Homo sapiens: one gene and its partners. The protein of the gene in region 4 interacts with the protein of the main gene of each other region in a pairwise test. Each region holds a gene or a part of one and is shown on either strand. Other genes may lie near its edges.

Region 1 (7,036 bases), on a different chromosome or scaffold from region 4:
AGGCTGCACCTGTTCCTACTTGCACCTCCATACCAGGCTCCCTGGCCTTGGGGCAGAAGCTTCTGAAGACTGGGGTGGAGCACCATGTGGAGGGGCCATCGAGGAACAGAGGAGCCAGAGTTCAAGTGAGGACAGCGATGGCACTGCAGGGCCACAGCCTGGTTTACCTGCCAAGTTTCCAGTTGTGCTTCTGGTGGGTGTCCGGCCCGGGTTGGAGTTTGAAGATGAGCAGGAAAGGTCTCCATCCAGGTGGCTGCAGATGGCTGCTCACCCAGCCCCTACTGAGAGGCCACGGTCCCAGTTCTGGTTCTCTGTCCTGTATCCAGGAGTGGCAGGGTAGCGAGGCTCTAGCTTCCAGGTTGGGGATGGAGACAGTGGGGACAGTGCCATGCCCCGAGCCTGTGCTGTTGGGCAGCTGGTATCCTGCTCCCAGCCAGAGAGTGTACATCTTCGTGTAGTGGATTTTCCTAACAACCAGGGGACATGAGGGCAGGTTGTTTTCCCTGTTTTACAGGTGGCAAAATGAGATTCAGGAGCAATGTCTCCAGCATTTTTGTCCTCACCTTCTGAATAATAGCAGCCATATTTGGGCCTCTGAAGGGCTAGAGTTCTCTGAGGAGCTGCTTCTCTGATCTCTGTCCTGCACTTGGCCTCTGGGAGCTCCTATGGGTCCTCAGCAGAGTCCACAGGGCTCTTCGGAGTCCCCTCCCTGTGCCACAGCCTGGAGCCTGTCCTTAGGTGGTAAGCTGAGGCCGCCACTGCGCTCACCTCATGGGCTTGGGGGGAAAGTGAGTCACCCAGGAAATAGACAATGAGCTCTTTATTGTCTTTGGAGTCTGCTGGAGCCAGGGAGGACAGATGAACCCCATGTGAATCCTGCTTCCTGGAGCCCACAGTGTGGTGGGTGAGGTGACACCAGGAATCATATAACTAATAGGAGGTAGCATGAGGGAGGCCTGATATCTCACCACCATTGCCTCCCCCTCCTCCAGAGAGGCCGTGTTGGTGCAAGGCTATAGGATGTGGTATTGTTGGCGTGGAGGATGGTGTTTGGTTAGAGTCACCATTGAGAGTCATAGAGGGAAGCGAAGCTCCCCTTGAAGGGCTTTTTTTTTTTGGCTGGACCTGAGAATTAAATTGACATAAGACAGGTACACAGGAGAAAAGCACGTACGACTTCTTTTTTCTTGAGATGGAGTATTGTTCTGTCACCCAGGCTGGAGTGCAGTGGTGCAATCTCGGCTCACTGCAACCTCCGCCTCCCAGATTCAAGCGATTCTCCTGCTTCAGCCTCCTGAGTACCTTGGGATTACAGGTGCCCACCCTTGCGCCTGGCTAATTTTTGTATTTTTAGTAGAGACGGGGTTTTGTCATGTTGTCCAGGCTGGTCTCGAAGTCGAGCTCAGGTGATCCGCCCATCTCAGCCTTCCAAAATGCTGGGATTACAGGTGTGTGCCACCATGCCCAGCCAACACACACATTTATTTAATGCAAGTTTTACCTAGCACAGAGAAGCAGTGAGAGTCAGTTACTTATATATTGAATTGGACCAAGTAACTTGTGAAGAAGCTAGTAAATATATGGAGGCTAAAAAGCTGAGTGGTTCTGTTCTAACAAGGTCTGCACAGTAATCTCTTGGCCTCGACTTCTCATCCTTAAAAATAAGGAGATCGTCCTATGTTTCCCTGGGGACTTTCATCTCCTGCTTTTAGGAAACACAAAAGAGGTCAAAGCATCTTATTGCGCCTGCTGTTTTTCAGTAGCCTTTAACTGATAATAGTCAATGGGCCAGGGTGGGTGGGCAGGTGCGATGGCTCACATGTATAGTCCTGCCCAGGTGGGTGCATCCTTAGAGCCCAGGAGTTCAAGACCGGCCTGGGAAACATAGCAAAATGCTGTCTCAAAACCAAAAACCAAAATAAAACCAAAAACCACAGACACAGACACACACACACACACAGAAAATCATGTCGTGTGAAGGAATACAAGCAGAATGCATACCATGTGATTCCTCATCTTATTAAAATACAACTAATCTATTGTGATAAAAAGCAGAAGAAGCATTGCTGGGGACATAGGAGCAAAGCAGAAGAGAGGATTACATTGAAAAATGAAGAAACACTGCAGGACGGTAGACATGTCATTATCTTATCGCGGCGATAGTTCCACAGTGTATACGTACATCTCAACCTACCAAACTACATGCTTCAAAAATGTACACTTTGTTTCATATCCATTATACCACAATAAATCTATTTTAAAAAAACCTTCAATAGAATATAAGCACTTGAGTGTATACTGTATTCCCTATAGCACTTGCACATAGATCATGGAAATAGGTATGCATAAAAAGTCAGTACCCAGTTAAAGTGGAATTCTAAAAGGTAATTAACATTAAAATGTGCAGGGGAAAAAGGAGTAAAAAAATTAGACTAGACAACCGTAGTTTAAATGGTAAACGTATAGGTCTATTTTGACTAACAATTATTGCACTCCCTGTAAATCCACTGAGCACTACAGTTCAATGGTAGAAATGTTTGGAAGGGCTGAAAAAACAAGACTCAGCTATATCTTGTCTATATGAGATGGGCCTTAAAAGGAAGACACAGATGCTGTCTGTGGAAAGCAAATAGATGGAAAAAGATACCCCACGCAGAGTGTAAGGCCAAGAAAACTGCCGTGGCTATCTCAGTATCACATGAAGTTGATTTTGTTAGCGGTGGACGAGATCCGAGTTACCCTACGTTGAAGGCGGCGAATCCGTATGGGTCCACAGCACCTTCAGCTCTTCGCCTCCTGAGAAGAAAGAATTGGACTGAGGGGCATAAGGCAGAAGGAGAGACAGAGGCAAGTTTCAGAGCAGGAGTGAAAGTTTATTAAAAAAGCTTTAGAACAGGAAGGAAAGGAAGGAACGGAAAGAAAAGAAGGAAAGTACAACTTGAAAGATGGCCGAGCAGGTGACTTGAGAAACAGTGCACAGCCGGACTGCCTGAGTTGGGGTTTTATAGGTTGGCCTACTTCCAGGATCTTGCCTTACTTCTCCCCACTCCTGAAATCTTATTGGGAAGCTGCTGATCAGTTTCAGGTGTTTTCTATGTATTAGGAGACTGCCTTTTTCTGGCATTGGCTGTAACCAGTTCTTACTTTAGAGACACGGTTATCAACCACCTGATGGTCGCCCAACACTGCTGGTGTCAGAAGCGGGGAGCCCTCTCCTACCCTGCTCATACCTGACTAGCTGCCTACTGTAACAATTTTAGGACATAGAATATTATGGGAGCTCAAAAGGGACCCTTGTAGTTAAAAAGGTTAATTCTTCAAGGAGTATAATAATAATCACAAATTGTATATGCCTAGTAATACAGCTGCAGAACACATGATGCAAAAAGAGAATGAAAAGGAGATTAAATCAGCTGTTTCTCTGTAATTGACAGAACGGTCAGATGAAAACCCCGGTAAAGTGGCAAGCGATCTGCACACTATCAACCACCTTGACTTAACTGACATTTAAAGAGCAGGAGTGGAACATCCACTGAACACTGATTCCTTTCTATGCTCATGATACTTTCACCAAGATAGACTGGGTTCTGGGATATAAAACACGCGATATGACCTCTAAACTTAATGAAACGAGACTGGAAGTCAGTAATAGTATCCATAGGGAATTCTAAAATTTGGTTATTGAACAATACACTTCTAAAAAATCTGTGGTTCAGAGAAGAAATCAAAAGGGAAGGTAAAATGTTTCAAAATAAATAATAATAATATAACAGCAAAACTGGTGGGAAATGGCTAACAGTGCTCGGAGTGAAATAATACAGCTTTCAATGTGTCTATTAAAAAAATTGGGGAGATGGGGAGTTACTCCTGAAGGGTATGCAGTTCCTTTCTGGAGTGATAAAAACATTCTAAGATTGATTATAGTGATGATTGCATAGCTATGAGTATATTAAAAAACTACTGAAATGTAGACTAAATGGGTGAATTATATGAATAATCATAATTACTAATTATGTGATTTGTGTCTCGTTAAAGCTGTCAAAAAAAGAAAAATATGTGAAATTTATGGCCTGAAGATCTACATTAATCAATCATAAAATATAAGCATAAATTTAAACCAAAGTAACAAGGAGGAACATAAATCAAGGAAATAGAATAGAAACCACAAAAAGAACTGACAAAACGGACTGTGTGTGGTGGCTTACGCCTGTAATCCTAGTACTTTGGGAGGCTCAGGCAGGCAGAACGCTTGAGCTCAGGAGTTAGACCAGCCTGGGCAACGTGATGAAACCCCAGCTGTATAAAATACACCAATATTAGCCCAGGCATTGGGGCACTCTCCTGTCTGTGGTCCCGGCCACTTAGGGACTGAGGTTGGAGGACCACTTGAGCCCGGGAGGCAGAGATTGTAGTGAGCAGAGATTACACCACTGCACTCCAACCTGGATGACAGAGGGAGATCCCGTCTCCAAAAAAGAAAAAAAAAAAAAAAGAGTTGAGAAAATGAATAGTTGCTCTTGAAAAGGAGTAAGGGTGTGAGAGCAGAGAAAGGTGACAGAGACATCGCCTGAACCTAGAGGGACCCCAGCTCTAGAAGGGAGGATTTGGGAAATGTGCATTAGCTTCACTGTCACCAACTACTAGGCAGGCTTTCATGTGGAAGAAAGCTACATTTTGTCTTGCTGAGAGCCAGGTAGTTGAACAGAGCCCAAGGTAAGTAGCTTTTATTGTAACCATTTTGTTTTTTCTCAGGAGCAAGATTATATTAAATTTAATTAAATGTAAATTTACAATTAAATTAATTTTGTACTTTTACACACTCCCAACTTAAAAGTTACAAAAACTATGCAAAAAAAATTTGAAAAATAGCTGTTGGCATGATGAAAGCTATTATTGAATTTTTCAGTGTGTACTTTCTACAAACAAGGAAATTAACATCAACACATTACCACTATCTAATATGCAGACTCTATTCCGATTCTCCAGTTGTCTTCTCGTCGTCATTTATAACACAGAGATCATGGCCATAATCCCTGAATTGCTGTTTTATCTTTTTCTGTCACTCTTTGATATTTAGTGGGAACAGCTTGTCAAGGTCCTTTGTGAAGCAGAAATTACTTAATGTTTGATGCTATATCCTGACTTTCTTTAAGGTTATATTGTAACCCTCATTTGTAAAAATGTGTATTTTTATGTGTGTGTCTGTGTGTGTGCGAGAGAGAGAGAGAGAGAGAGAATATTCACCCACTGGTCAATTAAACACTTGGTCAAACTAAATACATTAGATGCTATTTCTGCTTGAAGGGCTCATATGTGTGGTTTTTTTGTTTTTTGTTTTTTGTTTTTTTTTTTGAGACAGAGTCTCGCTCTTTCGCCCAGGCTGGAGTGCAGTGCAAGCTCCGCCTCCTGGGTTCACGCCGTTCTCCTGCCTCAGCCTCCCAAGTAGCTGGGGTTACAGGTGCCCGCCACCATGCCCAGCTAATTTTTTGTATTTTTAGTAGAGACGGGGTTTCACTGTGTTAACCAGGATGGTCTCAATCTCCTGACCTCATGATCCACCCACTTTGGCCTCCCAAAGTGCTGTGATTACAGGCCTGAGCCACCGCGCCTGGCCTTTTGTGTTCTTATAAAATCTTTTCTTGCCAACTACAGTGGTGTGTTCCTGTTACCCAACTTGCTTGGGAGACTGAGGCGGGAGGATCACTTGAGGCCAGAAGTTCCAGGCTGTAGTAGACTATGATCACACCTGTGAATAGACACTGCATTCTAGCCTGGGCAACATAGCAAGACTCTATCAAAAAAAAAAAAAAACTCTTCTGCTCATATTTTCTGGGGTAAATATATTTTATGTTATAATATGATAAAAGGATACGGAGGTGTTTTTCTTTATAGAAAATAGCTACCTAACAGGCCAGGGGACAAACACGGATGCAAAAGAATGAAAGTTTGGAATGGGAAAAAAGTCCAGGCTCTCATGGGTTTTGTCACTTGGGGTGAAGGGAATGTGAGACGGAGCCTGGGAGAGGTAAGGTCTGGAAGCCACTCAAGCCCATCTCTGCCTTGTCCCCACAGGTCCGGGTTGACTCTGCCACCATCCCCCGGCAGGACGAAGTTCCCCAGCAGACAGTGGCCCCACAGCAACAGAGGCGCAGCCTCAAGGAGGAGGAGTGTCCAGCAGGTGCACTCTTATTTTTAAAAATCAGTTTATTTTTAGTTGACAGATAAACATTGTATATATTCATGGTGTACACCATGATGTTTGGAAATATGCACGCATTGTGAAATGGCTAAATCAAGCTAATTCACATACTTATCGTGTATTTGTTGTAAGAACACTTAAAAGTCTACTCAGCAATTTTCAGCTGTATGGATACAGAGCCCTGGGATAAGCCCTCTTTGCCCTCCTCACCTGTGGGTTCTGTAGCCATCCTCATCTGTGGGTGTTGCATCCGTGGTTGCAACCAACACAGATCAAAAATATGTGGAAAAAATAATGAAAATGATAACATGTCAATAAAAGTAGATAAAAAGCAATGCAGTAAAGCACTTATTTACATAGCATGTCTATTGCATTAGGTATTACAAGTAACCTAGAAATGATTTAAAGCATATGTACCTGGGGTGTATGCAATACTATCCCAATTTGTATCAGGGACTTGTGTAAGTGCAGAGTTTGTTCCATGGAATATATTCCCTGTGAATAGAAGGCAGGACTGTACAACACATTGTTTTAATAACTGTAGTCACCATGTCACACAATACATCTCTTGAATTTATTTCCCCCTGTCTAACTGAAATTTTGTATCCTTTGACCAGCATCTCTCCAACCCACCGTGCAAATACAGCGCTGGTAATCACCATTCTACTCTCTACCTCTATGAGATCAAGTTTTAAGATTCCACATATGTGAGATCATGAGGTGTTTGTCTCTCTGTGCCTGGCTTATTTCACTTAGCATGATATCTCCAGGTTCATCCATGCTGTCACAAATGACAGAATTTCCTTCTTTGTTGAGGCTGAATAGTATTCCATTGTG
Region 2 (7,036 bases), on a different chromosome or scaffold from region 4:
TTTTATGGTTCTATCATAATTTACTTAACCAATCTCATGTATTAGCTATTTTGGCTGTTTCTATTATAGTTTATGTTCTTATTATCAAATTAGACAAATTTATGTCTAATTTGCATGACTAATTTGTGCCATGGACATTCGCTGCCTGGGTACTGGAGACTTGTGGTTAAGTCTCTGCATGTCTGCAACTTTGTGCCGCCATCTATTCTACCTTGAAAGTTTAACAGGGTGTGTGGATTCTTCTTGAAATCTTCCCACTTTTCTCATATTGCTTTTTCCAATTTTAATTGAGTAAGAAACAGTTTTGGAGAAGGTGGGACACTATCCTATATGTGTGTGTGTGTGTGTGTGTGTGTGTGTGTGTGTGTGTGTATATTTTTTTTTTTTCTTTTTTTTGGAGATGGAGTTTCGCTCTTGTTGCCCAGGCTGGAGTACAGTGGCGTGATCTCGGCTCACCGCAACCTCCACCTCCCGGATTCAAGCGATTCTCCTGCCTCAGCCTCCCAAGTAGCTAGGATTACAGGCATGTGCCATCATGCCCGGCTAATTTTGTATTTTTAGTAGAGATGGGGTTTCTCTGTGTTAGTCAGGCTGGTCTCGAACCCCTGACCTCAGGTGATCCACCCACCTTGGCCTCCCAAAGTGCTGGGATTACAGGCGTGAGCCACTGCGCCTGGCCAACACTATCCTGTATTAAGCACCAGGTTTGTGGTCAGTCCTTGGATCTGGTTGCTAATTTTTTTTGTCTCTTGTTCAAAATCCTGGTTTATAAAATTTGTTGCATGTGTGCTTAATAAACTAGCACTAAGTGTTGAAGTGGAAATCTCTTTTTTTTTTTTTTTTTTTTTGAGACGGAGTCTCGCCCTTGTCACCCAGCCTGGAGTGCAATGGCGTGATCTCGGCTCACTGCAACCTCCGTCTCCCGGGTTCAAGCAATTCTCCTGCCTCAGCCTCCCAAGTAGCTGGAATTACAGACACTCGACACCATGCCCGGCTAATTAGTAGAGATGGCGTTTCTCCACGTTGGCTGGGCTGGTCTCGAACTCCCGACCTCAGGTGATCCGCCCACCTTGGCCTCCCAAAGTGCTGGGATTACAGGCGTGAGCCACTGCGCCCAGCCTGAAGTGGAAATCTCTAAGGAAAATTCTTACAAGGATATCGCTTGAGTTCCTTCAGTTTTGACTAGTGAGTTTTTGACAGAAAAGGTTCATCTGTTATGTAGGGAATAAGAAAGGGACACTTGTAAATGACTATATGATATAATCAAACGGAATTGTCATCTGAGCACTAATTCGGTAAGTAGCTGACCTTATTAAGATAGCCTGATTCTGGCCCGGTACGGTGGGTCATGCCTGTAATCCCAGCACTTTAAGAGGCCAAGGCAGGCGGATCATGAGGTCAGGAGTTCGAGACCAGCCTGGCCAACATAGTGAAACCTTGTCTCTACTAAAAATACAAAAATTAGCCAGGCATGGCGGCACGCATGTGTAGTCCCAGCTACTCGGGAGGCTGAGGCAGGAGAATCACTGGAACCTGGGAGACAGAGGTTGCAGTGAGTGGAGACCATGCCATTGCACCCCAGCCTAGGTGACAGAATGAGATTCCATCTCAAAAAAAAAAAAAAAAAAAAAAGCCTGATTCTAAGAGAACACTTTTTTTTTTTTTTTTTTTTGAGACGGGGTCTCTCTATCCCCCCAGCTGGAGTGCAGTGGCAAGATCTCAGCTCACTGCATCCTCTGCCTCCCAGGTTCAAGTGATTCTCCTGCCTCAGCCTCCCTAGTAGCTGGGATTACAGGCAGGCGCCACCACGCTTGGCTAATTTTTGTATTTTTAGTAGAGACGGGGTTTCACCATGTTGGCCAGGCTGATCTCGAACTCCTGACCTCAAGTGATCCGCCCGCCTCAGCCTTCTAAAGTGCTAGGATTACAGGCGTGAGCCACTGTGCCCGGCCGTGAAGCCACCTTTTCACTCAGCCCCACCTGCACAAGCTGCAGCTCCAGGCTTTTTACTTGGGAGAATGCGATGCCATTGGCTGTGCTGCCCATGGCAGAATCTGGGAATGACCCTGGAGTCTTCCCTTCTCTGACACCCGTGTCCCAGGACACGAATCCTGGGGGTTCTCTGACTGCCCTGTAGCTGACCTGCAGACCCCACAGCTGTGTATACCTTGATGGTGGCTGCCCTTTGACTGCTTCCCCTGCAGTCCAGCCCTGCCCCTATCCAGGTCCCCTCTCTGCAGAGCTGGGACGGCATTTCCAAATTGTAGGGCCCATTATCTTGTTTCTCTGCTTAAAATCTTTCAGTGGGTTATTTCATCTTTTCTGGCACTTTCTTTATCAGGCTTTTCCTATCCAGTTTTATAACAGCACCCCCACCCCAACACACACACACCCCACCCACCAGCCACAACAGGCCTACAGCTGCACAGTCCTGGGCCCAGGCCAGCCACGCTGCCAATGCCAGCCTGCCACTTGCCTTTATCAGTATGCAGCATCTTGGGTGCCCCCTCTTCCCCAGCACTTCTTGAGACTCGGTTCAGGGGTTCAGGTGACCCCAGCAACAGGCGCCTGCCTGGCCCTGCTGCGTGCACACAGCTGTGACCAAGGTTTGCCCTCACAGGCTATGCCAAACTGCGACCTGTGTCTCCCCGTTCCTCCCCAGACTGCGCTCTAAGGATGGCACTTGGACCCATGTCTTAGCGGGGTGCTCAGTGTCCATCATCCAATTTGGTGATAAAGTGGAGTATTCCTTTCTCCCGAAGGGTTCTATGCAAAAATCTTCAGACATAACACCAGTGCTCACATTTTCTCATGGTTTGTTTTCTCTCCAGAAAATGAATTGTGACTTGTCCCGGTCTCTCTTATCTAGTGGTAAGCATCCGTGGCATTCAAGACGAAGATCCCCCTGACGCCCAGCTCCTGAGGCTGGATAACATGCTGCTGGCTGAGGGCGTGTGCAGGCCCGAGAAGAGAGGAAGAGGAGGAGCGGTGGCCAGGGCCGGCACAGCAACACCAGGTGGCTGTCCAAATGACAATAGCATTGAGCACTCTGACTACAGGGCCAAGCTGTCCCAGATCCGACAGATTTACCACTCTGAGCTAGAGAAATATGAACAGGTGATCTTTCTGCATGGAAGAGTTTCTGTCATGTGAATGCGCATTTGTCAAAGCGAAACACGGAACGCTAACCACCTTTCTTTCGTGGCGCAGAACAGGGAGTCCATGCAGTTGGTCGCTGCAGAGGTGGTCCATTGTTACTGAAAGCCCTTTCCATTTACTTAACAGTCACCCGCCGGTGTGTGAACTACAGGGGGTGGCAGGCGGCTGCTCCGCTGTGGAACCTGCTGCCCTGTGCCACCCTGCTGCCTAGTCACAGGCCGGCGTGTCTGTGCTCCCACCCCAGGCCTGTCGTGAGTTCACCACGCACGTCACCAACCTCCTCCAGGAGCAGAGCAGGATGAGGCCTGTCTCCCCTAAGGAGATTGAGCGCATGGTCGGCGCCATTCACGGCAAGTTCAGCGCCATCCAGATGCAGTTGAAGCAGAGCACCTGTGAGGCAGTGATGACCCTGCGTTCGCGGCTGCTCGATGCCAGGTCAGGGCCTGTACGTACCCAAAACCTCAAGGGCCGGCTCTGAGGGACTGGAGGGAAATAGTGCTGGCTTGGGTTGAAGACAGCCCTGGAGGCTGTGTCTGCAGTCACGGTTGGAGGCCTCACAGCCTCTTGGGAAGAAGGCCTGAAGTATTGCTGTTTTCATTTTTATTTTATTTTGTATTTATTTATTTATTTATTTGAGACGGAGTCTCACTCTGGTGCCCAGGCTGGAGTGCAGTGGTGCGATCTCCACTCACCACAACCTCCGCCTCCCAGGTTCAAGCGATTCTACTGCTTCAGCCTCCCGAGTAGCTGGGATTACAGGCTCCCGCCACCATGCCCAGCTAATTTTTGTGTTTTTAGTAGAAACGGGGTTTCACTATGTTGACCACGCTGGTCTCGAACTCCTGACCTCAAGTGATTGCTGTTTTCAGAACTACTGGAAAATCATACTCAGAACTAGAGGTGGGGGTGGTACTGGAGTCCCAGCATATTAATGCCTACGAAGGCGGCTGTTTTTGCAGGCGCAAGCGGCGGAATTTCAGCAAGCAGGCGACGGAAGTGCTGAATGAGTATTTTTACTCCCATCTGAACAACCCTTACCCCAGCGAAGAAGCCAAAGAAGAGCTGGCCAGGAAGGGCGGCCTCACCATCTCCCAGGTGACGTTCTCTCCTGCCACGTCTCGCCACGCCTGGGAGGAGTGGATGACTAGGTCCCATGAGGACACCCAGGGAAGTTTGTTAAATGTGTGCAGAGGCCAGGCATGGCTGCTGGAATCCCAGCACTTTGGGAGGATGAGGTAGGAGGGTCGCTTGAGGCCAGGAGTTCGAGACCAGCCTGGGCAACATAGTGAGACACTGTCTCTACAAAAAATTTAAAAAATTAGCTGGGCTTGGTGGTGTGCACCTGTGGTCTCAGCTCCTTCGGATGCTGAGGTGGAAGGATCACTTGAGCCCAGGAGGGTGAGGCTGCAGTGAGCTATGATGGCGCCACTGCATTCCAGCCTGGGTGACAGAGTGAGATCCTATCTCTGAAAAACAAAAAAAGTGTGGAACAGGAGCCAAGTCTCCAGGCTCTGAGTCAGCCAGGCCAGCTCAGATCCAGGCTCTGCATTACAAATGTGGGACTCCAGCGCTCTCCCCGTTCATCTGTGAGGCAGGGGTGCAAGTGTACCCACAGAGAGACCTGAGGACTTCCTGAGCGATGCAGATGGAATGCGAGGTCCCAGAGGTGATGCTGTGGAGTGTGAGCTCCCTGAGGGACACAGACGGAGTGTGAGCTCCCTGAGGGTTACAGACAGAGTGTGAACTCCCTGAGGGATACAGACAGAGTATGAGCTCCCTGAGGGATACAGATGGAGTGTGAGCTCCCTGAGGGATACAGACAGAGTGTGAGCTCCCTGAGGGTTACAGACAGAGTATGAGCTCCCTGAGGGATACAGACGGAGTGTGAGCTTCCTGAGGGATACAGATGGAGTGTGAGCTCCTTGAGGGATACAGATGGAGTGTGAGTTCCCTGAGGGATACAGATGGAGTGTGAGCTCCTTGAGGGATACAGATGGAGTGTGAGTTCCCTGAGGGATACAGATGGAGTGTGAGCTCCTTGAGGGATACAGATGGAGTGTGAGTTCCCTGAGGTGACTGAGGTGGAGTGTGAGCTCCCTGAGGGATACAGATGGAGTGTGAGCTCCCTGAGGGATACAGATGGAGTGTGAGCTCCCTGAGGGATACTGATAGAGTGTGAGCTCCCTGAGGGATACAGATGGAGTGTGAGCTCCCTGAGGGATACTGATAGAGTGTGAGCTCCCTGAGGGATACAGATGGAGTGTGAGCTCCCTGAGGGTTACAGATGGAGTGTGAGCTCCCTGAGGGATACAGATGGAGTGTGAGCTCCCTGAGGGATACTGGTAGAGTGTGAGCTCCCTGAGGGATACAGATGGAGTGTGAGCTCCCTGAGGGTTACAGATGGAGTGTGAGCTCCCTGAGGGATACAGATGGAGTGTGAGCTCCCTGAGGGTTACAGATAGAGTGTGAGCTCCCTGAGGGATACTGATGGAATGTGAGCTCCCTGAGGGATAAAGATGGAGTGTGAGTTCCCTGAGGTGATTGAGGTGGAGTGTGAGCTCCCTGAGGGACAGAGATGGAGTGTGAGCTCCCTGAGAGATACAGATGGAGTGTGAGCTGCCTGAGGGATACAGGTGGGGTGTGAGCTCCCTGAGGGATACAGATGGAGTGTGAGCTCCCTGAGGTGATTGAGATGGAGTGTGAGTTCCCTGGGGGATGCTGTGGAGTGTGAGCCCCCTGAGGTGACGTGGTAGAGAGTGTGAGCTCCCTGACTCTATAGCCTGGTAGGCAGCCACCAGTGTCCTCTGTGGAACTGGGGGTGAAAGAGGGAGACACTAAGACCAAGAGGCTAAGAAATATTTCCGAAGGTTTTAACATGGAAACAGTAAGTCCAGGCAGCCTATGGCAGCAAGCCAGGTCCAGGCCATACCCCCGTGGCAGCATGAGTGTGTGGAACAGGGCCTGGGTGCCGCCCTCCCACCTGGGCAGGCACAGCCCCACAGCCTCTATGGCAGCAGGAATGGCAGGTGCTGACCCACAGCATGGCTTGCTGCATGTCACCACAGCCCTCCCTACTTTGCAGTTGGAGGGGCTGAGTTTCTAGTCCTTCACCACCATGCTCTGCTCCAACCCAGGCTAAGTCCAGTCAAGTCTCTGTGACAGAGAGCAATTGGAACCCCTCGGGGTCACGCAGGCAGCAAAACATCCTGAGGTCATAGTCACATATGACTTTGCTCATCGGGATCTGCTGTGGTGTCAGAAACAAGGCCAGAGCTGGAGCAAGGGGCTGCGCCTCTGGGTCTTCAAGGCCCCTGGAGAAGCGTGAGACATTTGGCCCCCAAGGAACAATTGTCTGGAGGACAACCAGGGCTGCTTCAACCAGGATGGAGCCTCTGGGGCCTCCCATGTGGATCAAGAGAAGGCTGCTCACACCCCCGGGGTAGGCAGACACTATGTTTGGAACAGAGAGCACACAGACAGGGATCCTTCTTTTTATACTTAACATTGCAAGGATAATGTAAGTACACCAAATGTTGGCCAGGCATGGTGGCTCATGCCTGAAATCCCAGCACTTTGGAGGCCAAGGCGGACGAATCACCTGAGGTCAGGAGTTCGAGACCAGCCTGGCCAACATGGTGAAACCCCGTGGCTACTGGAAATACAAAAATTAGCCAGGCTTGGTGGCACATGCCTGCAATCCCGCTACTGGGGAGGCTGAGGCAGGAGAATCATTTGAACCAGGGAGGCGGAGGTTGCAGTGAGTTGAGGTCGCACCACTGCACTCCACACTCCAGCCTGGGTGACAGAGTGAGACTCCGTCTCCGAAAAAAAAAAAAAAAAAAAGTACAAAAATTAGCCAGGCTTGGTAGCACGTGCC
Region 3 (7,036 bases), on a different chromosome or scaffold from region 4:
GGAGCCTGAGACTGATCTGGCTTTAGGTGCTCGAAACCTTTCTTTGATCACAGGGCCATTAACTCCGCCTTTGGGCCTCCTCCTTCTCCTGAAATCCCCCTTTAAAAGTTCACTTGGTAATTTCTATCAATATCTATTTGATTTTATGATCTATGAACTCTTAGGACATATTGCCAGAATGGTACTTTGGTCCTTCAGAAAAAAATTTATTCTTTTTTTTTGAGATGGAATTTCGTTCTTGTTGCCCAGGCTAGAGTGCAATGGCGCGATCTCAGCTTACTGCAACCTCTACCTCCCAGGTTCATGCGATTCTCCTGCCTCAGCCTCCTGAGTAGCTGGGATTACAAGCATGCGCCACCACACCCGGCTGATTTTGTATTTTTAGTAGAGAGGGGGTTTCTCCATGTTGGTCAGGCTGGTCTTGAACTCCAGACCTCCGGTGATCTGCCAACCTTGGCCTCCCAAAGTACTGGGATTACAGGCATGAGCCCCCGTGCCCAGCCTAGAAATTTATTCTATTATTGGTAGATTTCTTAATGTTTTTTAATAAGCTGCCATCTTGTTGTGATCAAGTTCAAAAAATATATTTTTTAAAACCATATGAATTAATTAGGTGCGCCTCTTGTTCCCACCTAATTGGGGGAAAAGGAGATTATACCAATCATTGTTTTAAAGCCGTCAGGAGTCCCAGTTAACCTGTGTGACTTTAGCAGGAGCCACCAAGGTAACTGCAGATGGCACAAGTCAGACACCATCAGAATTCTGCTCTCCCAGTGTTTGGGATAATTGTGGTAGAGACCATGAATTAGAAACACACATAGGCAACACCCACTTACTTATTGGTGGCAGGAGAAGACCTAGAAACATTGTAGAGATGTTTCTGCTTCCTCCCAAGGGCCAGCAGTTTACACCCGGGGGCCACATCACACCAGATTGATTTCAGTGTATGTGGTGGGGCCTTCACTGTTTACATTAGTAATTTGATCCTTCCATTAAGACCCCTGCACCTATTCTTTAGGTAAGAATTGAAGCAGGTCTGATTTCCGACAGTTACACTGCTGTCCCAGAGGAAAACTCAGTGGCAGTATGTTGTTGTTCAGTGTTATATAAGCATGGCAGGTACGTATGTCCGCAGATGTATACTAAACATATACGTACATATATGTTTCCAATTTTCTTCCTAGATCTTGGCCCTGATTGCATTCATCTGCATAGAGACCATCATGGCATGCTCCCCGTGTGAAGGCCTCTACTTTTTTGAGTTTGTGAGCTGCAGTGCGTTTGTGGTGACTGGCGTCTTGCTGATTATGTTCAGTCTCAACCTGCACATGAGGATCCCCCAGATCAACTGGAATCTGACAGTGAGTACAAGCGGCCACTCTGGCCATGAAAGGATCACGTGCCTGTTGGCTCCAAGGAAAAGCTGGAATCTCTCCAGGTCATGTTTGGTTCTAGTTCATTTTGATCCTTAAATATTCTATTATAATTCAACTGTGAAATTTTAAATTTCTTTACTGGGTTAAGTAAAACTACAAAATAAACTGAATCTTAACTAATGGGAGAAACATCATAACAATTATTTTGGCCACCTTAAAGATGTCATTTCAATTTTGCAATCATCTGAGAAGACTGGTCATGTTGATATTTGGAGAATATGGGAAATAAAATACAGTGTAGACATTTACATACTTTTCAGACTGGACCTAAAAGCCATTTATAAAAATATTGATTCTGGAAGAATTGAAAATATGAATGAAAATGCCAGTAACTTACAGAGCCTAGGAATATTATTAAATTCAAAGCAACTAGGAGGACCTGGGGGGGTTTGGTGGTTTGATCAGAAAGTCTTGAGTGGAAACCTGCCCCTTCTCCCCATGGTTTGGGTTCTTAGCTCTGTTTGGCCACCCTTGTTAATCAGATGGGAAGCACAGGGCTGGTCAGTCCTAGACCCCCTTTCCTAGACTGTGTCCTTACTGTGCTGAATGAGAAGAGGATTTTAATATCATTTGGTTTTCTTGATATTTATTTACAAATTAGCATGTGCAAGAGCTCAAAGGGAGTCAGTCAGGGAGATCCACGTAAGCACAGTCGGCTGCCTCACACTGCTGTGCCTGTGGGATGAGAACGCCGTGGGCACCTCAGCTGCTGAGGGGGAAGCAGGAGGAGAGCGCCTCAGACCAGCTACCCTTGCCTGAGATTGGGAGCCACACAGAAGCCACACGTGGCTCTGTCTGTGTTTGGCTGCTGCTGGGCCCATGAGAAAGTGTGGGCCCCAAGGAGGAGGCTGGAGCTGCCACCTCCCTGTCAGGGCTGCTCTCCTGGTGTGCCCTGGGTGGGGAAGGTCCTCCTTACAGGTGCTCTCTGGGTTGTCCTAACCAGCACAGACTCCTAAAGGAGGAAAAAAGGAGAGTTGCTGATCTAGAAAAGTAGATATCAGTTGAAAACTTAGCTGTTTTTTGTCTTAGCACTGGAAGCTGAGAAAAATGTGGTGGTATTTTAAATTTAAGCTCTAAAACCTCAAGATAACTAGAAGCATTTTGTCTGAGTTTTTGTGACAGGTTGTAATGTCTCAACTATTTTTAAAATGAGGTTTATGTTATCCATAAGAAAATGCTTACAGAGCATGTAGTAGACTGTTTAAGAGAACTTTGCAAACCTCCCCCAGTTAAAATGCTCATACTATGGATGCAGGGTCAAGGTCAAGGTCAGCATCTTGTTCATTGCTATCCTACTTGCCTAGTGTTCCTGAGGCCTGTCAATAAATACTTGTTGAGTAAGGGGCTGGGCTGTGAAACCCTGCGGGAGGACCTGTTTGACAAAGAAGCAGCTGCTGGAAAGGTTAAGACTATAGGCATTGAGTCAGACAGACCGAGCTGGGTTCAAGTCCAAGGTAGCTGCTGAAACAGGCTGTGCATGACCCTGGGCTAGTCACTGAGAGCCCTACATTGGTGAAGTGTCAGCACTGGTAAAGTGGAGATAATAATTTTTTTTTTTGCAGGGTTTTTTTTTAAGTATAAAATGAGGTAATGGGTGTAAAGGCATCTGGTAAGGCCTCAAACCAGTGGGCGCTGTGGCCAGTGCAGCAATGTTCATCTCACCTGAGTAAGAGGTGTCCTGGCACGCTGCTGTTATGTTACCCACACTGTTCCCCTGTTTACTTCCACCAGGTTTGACTTGACCCCCTTAATTCTGTTTTGTCCATTTATCTGACAGCCATTAACCTGTTAAAAGACTTCATGCTTCAGATTTCTTACTAATTTATACCAGCGTTTATCCCCAGAAATACCTACTTTTTGTTGTTTTTGGGTTTTTTTTTTTGTTTTTTTGAGACAGAGTCTTGCTCTGTTGCCCAGGCTGGAGTGCAGTGGCGTGATCTCGGCTCAATGAAACCTCCGCCTCCCGGGTTCAAGCGATTCTCCTGCCTCACCCTCCCTAGTAGCTGAGATTATGGGCATGTACCACCATGCCCAGCTAATTTTTGTATTTTTAGTAGAGATGGGGTTTCACCATCTTGGCCAGGCTGGTTTCAAACACCTGACCTCAGGTGATCCACCCACCTCAGCCTCCCAAAGTGCTGGGATTACAGGTGTGAGCCACCACACCCAGCCCAGAAATACCTATTTAGTGAGCTTTCTGGAATTCTGCTTTTTCTATTTTAATCATGAAAGATTTTCCACTTGTTGACTACCACACTACCATGTCACCGGTCATGTTGAGGTGCATCTCTCCCCAGGGAAGTTGATACTCGTTCTTTTCCTCTGGGTGGTGGTGGCCTGGGCCTGTGGTTGGGTGTTGGTGATGTGGTCACTTGAGAACACGATCCTGTTCTTTGGGATCCGTTCTAGACTTTCCACTCTTTTGGAGCAGATAAAGGCTGTGTGTTTGCCCAACAAAAGGGCATATACCTTACATGAACTTGAGGAGATGGTACCTTTTTTTTTTTTTTTTGAGATGGGGTCTTGCTCTGTCGCCCAGGCTGGAGTGCAGTGGTGCGATCTCGGCTCACTGCAACCTTTGCCTCCCGGGTTCAAGTGATTTTCCTGTCTCAGCCTCCTGAGTAGCTGGGATTACAGGCATGTGCCACCGTGCCCAGCTAATTTTTGTATTTTTAATAGAGACGAGGTTTCGCCACGTTGGCCAGACTGTTCTCCAACTCCTGATCTTAGGTGATCTGCCCACCTCAGCCTCCCAAAGTGCTGAGGTTACAGGCGTGAGCCACTGCACCCTGCCAAGATGGTATCTATTAAAGGCAGCTCATGTCCAGTGTTCTCTGAGAGGGGTGAAAAAGTGAGCTCCTCACGGCCGATCTCAGCTCATCAACTCGCTACAGAAGGGTTGGCCTTGGCTGTGTTGTGTTTCTGTAACAAGGTGGTGGGAGTATTGGGAGTATTTTTGTCTCCAGCAGAGCCAGCCTGATGGTTAAAATAGGGTGTGATTGGTATAGATTTAAAAACACAGGTCATTCCAGGAGCCCAGGTTGACATAAATATGGATGAGAAATGATAAATAAGGAGGACAGTGCATAATTTTCTACAAGCATAATTTGATGGAATTTGAATGATTCTGTTAATGTCAAGTTTTTGGTTTGGGTTTATTTTTGGATGGATTGTGGGACTTTGATATATATATATATTTATATATATATATTTATATATATATATATTTATATATATATATTTTGAAACGGAGTTTCGCTCTTGTTGCCCAGGCTGGAATGCAGTGGCACAATCTTGGCTCAACGCAACCTCCACCTCCCAGGTTCAAACGATTCTCCTGCCTCAGCCTCCCGAGTAGCTGGGATTACAGGCATGTGCCACCACACCCGGCTAATTTTTTTGTATTTTTAGTAGAGAGGGGGTTTCTCCATGTTGGTCAGACTGGTCTTGGACTCCCAACCTCAGGTGACCTGCCCGCCTCAGCCTCCCAAAGTGCTGGGATTACAGGCGTGACCCACCGTGCCTGGCGATATTTGTTTTTCTCTGTGTCCTAGGAGCTCATACACTCACATGTTCCACCCCTGTTTACTTTGATTAGTGCCACGGGGCTCCTCCTTTCCTCCCCTTCCCTTCTGGGATGTGGCGCTATCTAAAAGGCGTGTCTGATCCTCCCCCATCCCAAAAGCCTGCCAGTGGCTCCCACTCAACTGGCCCCAGAGCCCAGGGCCAGCTCAGCCCCACTTCCCAGAAGAGGAGGTCTGCACTTGCCTTCTCTACTTCCCCCTCTCCTAATCTCACTTTTCTAATCTCTTATTGTCAAATTCTGAAAAAATTATGAAAGTAAATATGGAGTTTAATATACAGCCACCACCTGGGTCAATAAATAGGAGATTGTCAACACCCCAAAAGCTTCCCATGTGTATTTTCCAGCTAAACACACCCCCTGCCCCTTCCCCCAGTCCACCATCCTGACTATGTGGTGGTCTTCCGCAATTCATCTTCAGCCCACTCCAGTCTGGCAGCATTGAAAGTCCCCTGGTCAGGAGCCTGGGACGGGGCCTCCGTGTTCCTAGATCCTCTGGTTGCTCTTGGGTTCTCACCCCACTCAACATCCTGGTGGTGTCTGCTATGGGGCACTCTGTCCTTCCTGCCATACTCTCTCACCTTGCATCCTGGGCCCCCACACTGTCCTGTTTTTCTTCTTCCGCTTTGGTCACCCTTTCTTAGTGGGCTCTGTGGCCCTGGAGGCCTCTTAGGCCTCTATCTCAGAACCCAGGCTGGGTGCTGTGGTGGGTTGAGAACAGTTGGCAGTTACCCACAGGGGCCACTGGCTGAGCCCTGAGCCCTAGGGCGTGACTCGTCTTGTGTTTTTTTATTTTATTTTATTTTATTTTATTTTTTTATTGATCATTCTTGGGTGTTTCTCGCAGAGGGGGATTTGGCAGGGTCATAGGACAATAGTGGAGGGAAGGTCAGCAGATACACAAGTGAACAAAGGTCTCTGGTTTTCCTACGCAGAGGACCCTGTGGCCTTCCGCAGTGTTTGTGTCCCTGGGTACTTGAGATTAGGGAGTGGTGATGACTCTTAAGGAGCATGTTGCCTTCAAGCATCTGTTTAACAAAGCACATCTTGCACCGCCCTTAATCCATTTAACCCTGAGTGGACACAGCACATGTTTCAGAGAGCACAGGGTTGGGGGTAAGGTCATAGATCAACAGGATCCCAAGGCAGAAGAATTTTTCTTAGTACAGAACAAAATGAAAAGTCTCCCAAGTCTACTTCTTTCTACACAGACACAGCAACCATCCGATTTCTCAGTCTTTTCCCCACCTTTCCCCCTTTTCTATTCCACAACACTGCCATTGTCATCATGGCCCGTTCTCAATGAGCTGTTGGGTACACCTCCCTGACGGGGTGGTGGCCGGGCAGAGGGGCTCCTCACTTCCCAGTAGGGGCGGCCGGGCAGAGGCGCCCCTCACCTCCCGGACGGGGCGGCTGGCCGGGCGGGGGCTGACCCCCCACCTCCCTCCCGGACCGGGCGGCTGGCCGGGCGGGGGGCTGACCCCCCACCTCCCTCCTGGACGGGGCGGCTGGCCGGGCGGGGGGCTGACCCCCCACCTCCCTCCCGGACAGGGCGGCTGGCCGGGCGGGGGCTGACCCCCACCTCCCTCCCGGACGGGGTGGCTGCCGGGCAGAGACGCTCCTCACTTCCCAGATGGGGTGGCTGCTGGGTGGAGGGGCTCCTCACTTCTCAGATGGGGTGGCCGCCGGGCGGAGGGGCTCCTCACTTCTCAGATGGGGCGGCCGCCGGGCGGAGGGTCTCCTCACTTCTCAGACGGGGCAGCTGGGCAGAGACGCTCCTCACCTCCCAGATGGGGTCGCGGCCAGGCAGAGGCGCTCCTCACATCCCAGACGGGGCGGCGGGGCAGAGGCGCTCCCCACATCTCAGACGATGGGCGGCCGGGCAGAGACGCTCCTCACTTCCTAGATGGGATGGCGGCCGGGCAGAGATGCTCCTCACTTTCCAGACTGGGCAGCCAGGCAGAGGGGCTCCTCACATCCCAGACGATGGGCGGCCGGGCAGAGGCTGCAATCTCAG
Region 4 (3,716 bases):
TTAATTTCAGCTGGGTGGTAGTCTATAGTCCCAGCTACTCGAGAGGCTGAGGCAGAAGGATCGCTTGAGCCCAGGAGTTCAGGGCTGCAGTGAGCTGTGATCACACCACTGCACTCCAGCCTGGGGGAAGAGCAAGACCCTACAAACAAAAAAGAGTTAATTCCATTATATTTATTTTTACATACCCAGAGTTTGACTAAAATATACCAGACAATCTCCTGTCCCCAAATCCATGTCCAAGCAAGGGGAGCCACGTTTTCTAAGCTCACAGTTTAAAGGTTAAAGAGACACACTGAGGAAAACTCAGGGAAAGAAGCTGATTTGCATGGACACTAGGCCTGTCGTTGATTCCCTCATTTCAAAAGTTGCATGTGCCATGGGAGGCGGAGTCTCTGAGGACATCCTGGCTGTGCCTCGGCGGCTCTGGACTCCAGCTCTACGCAGAGCGCCTTAACACTGTACTGGAAGAAATGGGAAATCGCATTGAGGACTTACAGAAGAATGTCAAGGACTTAATGGTGCAAGCTGGCATTGAAAATTCTATTAAAGAACAAATGGTAAGGTTATTAGCAAACTATGTCAACCGTTTTCGTATGTTTTGACTGCTTTCATCTTGAAACATACAATCCCATATTTGTTCACTATGGGAATTGCTGCCTCTGTGCTGCATGAAAACTGCTCAGGAATAATAAATTTCCAAATGCTCTCTTCTTTTTTTGAGGTGGAGTCTTGCTCTGTCGCCCAGGCTGGAGTGCAGTGGCATGATCTTGGCTCACTGCAAACTCCACCTCCCGGGTTTAAGCCATTCTCCTGCCTCAGCCTCCCAGGTAGCTGGAACTACAGACATGCACCACCACACCCAGCTAATTTTTGTATTTTAGTACAGACGGGGTTTCACTATGTTGGCCAGGCTGGTCTCCAACTCACAACCTCAGGTGATCCACCCACCTTGGCCTCCCAGTGCTGCAATTACAGGCGTGAGCCACCACGCCCGGCCACACCCAGCTAGTTTTTGTATTTTTAGTAGAGACGGAGTTTCACCTTATTGGCCAGGCTGGTCTCGAACTCCTGACCTCAGGTGATCCACCCGCCTCGGCCTCCCAAAGTGCCTCCTCTGCAGGGCATCTGAGGCCACCCAGTGCAACCCGAACCTCATCAGGGCACTGTAGGCATTCTCACAGCTTCTGATGCTGAATGTAAACATGCCACAAAAGAATGCTAGGATCAGAGGCATGTTTAAAGCCATTAGTAAAAATAACAGAAAAAATGATTCAGAAGCCAGGCGCGGTGGCTCAGCCTGTAATCCCAGCACTTTGGGAGGCCGAGGTGGGCGGATCACGAGGTCAGGAGATCGAGACCATCCTGTGAATGGTGAAAGCCCGTCTCTACTAAAAATACAAAAAAAAAAAAAAAATAGCCGGGTGTGGTGGCGGGCGCCTGTGGTCCCAGCTACTTGGGAGGCTGAGGCGGGAGAATGCCGTGAACCCGGGAGGCAGAGCTTGCAGTGAGCCGAGACTGTGCCACGGCACTCCAGCCTGGGCGACAGAGCGAGACAACATGAAAGAAAAGAAAGGAAAGAAAGAAAGAAAGAAAGAAAGAGGAGAGAGAGGAGAGAGAGGAGAGGAGAGAGAGAGAGGGAGGGAGGGAGGGAGGGAGGGAGGGAGGGAGGGAGAGAGAGAGAGAAAGGAAAGAAAGAAAGAAAGAAAAAGAAAGAAAGAAAGAAAGAAAGAAAGAAAGAAAGAAAGAAAGAAAGAAAGAAAGAAAGAAAAAAAAACGATGCAGAATAGCGCCCACGTTGAGCAGGTCCTCCCACCTGTGCCCACGCGGATGCTTCCCCAGGGATCCTCTGAACCTCCAGGTCAGAAAGCTGGTGAGCCGTGAATTCACCCTGCATTTTAATTTTTGGGTGTGGTCTGTTCAGGTAGGCAGAGATGGCAGTGCTCTGATTCTGCTGGTGGACTGAAGTCCTCATCCCTTCTCTGCGTGCGCTCAGAGCAGAGGCAGTCTTCCCCCAGACACCTAACCAAGTTTCCTGCAGACACACTGGCATCATAACCTTCAGACGTTTATTCTGAAAGTCTTAAAGCAGTATGTCAGTGGCCCCATACTCTGTAGCCTTCTGCCCCTTGCTTTTTTGTTCAGTACTGAGATTCATGTCGACACGTGTCGCTCTAGGTCAGTCGCCAACTGCTGCCTGATAGTCCTCTGATGATTTACTTTATATTTGACTAATATTGTTTCCAAACAATGCTGCACTATTCTTGTCTACTTCTTTGTGTACACGTTGCCAGTTTCTCTAGGGGACTTGGTTATTCTGTACCTAGGGGCTTGTCACCTGCATTAGCTGCCACAAGTAATTTCTGGACTTTGCCTAGAAGCCATCCTGGGGAGATGGGAAATAGAATTCACTAGGTACCCAGAGAGCCACTAGTATATCCAACTTGATTAAAGCACCACAGTGCCACAGACGAGGCAAGGCTTGGCAGCCATGCAGGCCTAGGTTTCAAATTCTTATCCTCTGTTGCTGGCTGTAACCTGGGGAAATCTAAGCTTTAGTTTTCTTCTCTGCCAAATATCTACCTGGTAAGTGGTTGTAAGGATTTAAGAAAATTGCTTGCAAAGCACTTAAGTCAGGGCAAGGTAGACAGCAGGTACATAATGAGATAAACTTGAAATACAGAGTCCAAATCATTATGATTTCAACTGTACTGCAGCCACAAAGCACCAGTGAGAACGTTATTAAAATCAGGGGTGAACATACTTAATACACCTGATAGGAGTTACGGCCTGAACGTTTATGTCTCCCTAAATAGCTGAAGACCTAACTGCAGCATGTCTGTATTTGGAGATGGGGCCTCTACAGAAGTCATTAAGGTTACATCGGTCCTGAGGGTGGGGCCCTCATCCAACAGGATTCGTCTTTCTGAGAAGAGACGCAAGGGGCTCGCCTGCTCTCCCCTCCGTGCCTGCACCAGAGAAGGAGGCCATCGGCAAGCCAAGGAGAGCCCTCCCCAGAAATCACACGGACCAGCACCTTGATCTGGGACTTCCAGAAAACAGAACTGTGAAAAGACAAGTTTCTGTTGTTTAAACCACCCAATCTGAAGTATTTTGTTATGGCAGTCCTGGGCAGACTAATACAATATGCAACACATTTACAATAAATATACAATAAACTTACAAATGTGGAATGTAATTATTTTATCTTTTTCTGGTAACGCCAGTAAAGCTGTTATCCTAAGAGACATAATTCACACATCATCCACCAATTATGCAATTGACAGAATTGTACCATTATCACAATCTTAGGGCACTTTTTCTGTTTATGCCTGCTCGGCTTATGTAAGCACATTTTCATTACATCAAAAATAAAACTGCCCATTAGCTGTCACCTCCTATTTCCCCCTCCCTCCCAGTCTTAAGCAACCACTAATCCGTCTCTATGGATGTGCCTATTCTAGAAATTCCGTATAAATGGAATCACACAATATGTAGTAACTGGCTTTTCACTTACAGTACTTCATTCTGTTTATGACTGAATAATATTCCGTTCTATGGATGGACATTTTGTTTAACCGTTCATCTGTTGATGGACACGTGGGTTTCCACATTTTGGCTTCTGTGTACGAGTTTCTATGTGGACATATGCGTTCAATTCTCCTGGGTATGAAACTGCTGGGTCAAATGGTAACACCATGTTTATCTTTTTTTATTTT

The links.
Region 1: the proteins of HSBP1L1 (region 4) and TNFRSF10D interact in binary tests that used the Homo sapiens proteins (3 or more experiments, as listed by UniProt).
Region 2: the proteins of HSBP1L1 (region 4) and PBX4 interact in binary tests that used the Homo sapiens proteins (3 or more experiments, as listed by UniProt).
Region 3: the proteins of HSBP1L1 (region 4) and CMTM4 interact in binary tests that used the Homo sapiens proteins (3 or more experiments, as listed by UniProt).

The regions. Positions count from the first base shown.
Region 1 is NC_000008.11:23,154,016-23,161,051, reverse strand, and holds part of TNFRSF10D (tumor necrosis factor receptor superfamily member 10D precursor), read left to right. Parts: intron 1-6,072; coding exon 6,073-6,178; intron 6,179-7,036. UniProt on the Homo sapiens protein: Receptor for the cytotoxic ligand TRAIL. Contains a truncated death domain and hence is not capable of inducing apoptosis but protects against TRAIL-mediated apoptosis. Reports are contradictory with regards to its ability to induce the NF-kappa-B pathway.
Region 2 is NC_000019.10:19,566,667-19,573,702, reverse strand, and holds part of PBX4 (pre-B-cell leukemia transcription factor 4), read left to right. Parts: intron 1-2,831; exon of another isoform or gene 2,832-2,869; coding exon 2,870-3,117; intron 3,118-3,285; exon of another isoform or gene 3,286-3,403; coding exon 3,404-3,594; coding exon of another isoform or gene 3,595-3,604; intron 3,605-4,118; coding exon 4,119-4,254; intron 4,255-7,036.
Region 3 is NC_000016.10:66,630,730-66,637,765, reverse strand, and holds part of CMTM4 (CKLF-like MARVEL transmembrane domain-containing protein 4), read left to right. Parts: intron 1-1,184; coding exon 1,185-1,361; intron 1,362-7,036. UniProt on the Homo sapiens protein: Acts as a backup for CMTM6 to regulate plasma membrane expression of PD-L1/CD274, an immune inhibitory ligand critical for immune tolerance to self and antitumor immunity. May protect PD-L1/CD274 from being polyubiquitinated and targeted for degradation.
Region 4 is NC_000018.10:79,967,627-79,971,342, forward strand, and holds the end of HSBP1L1 (heat shock factor-binding protein 1-like protein 1), read left to right. Parts: intron 1-462; coding exon 463-557; intron 558-2,813; coding exon 2,814-2,825; 3' UTR 2,826-3,196; downstream 3,197-3,716.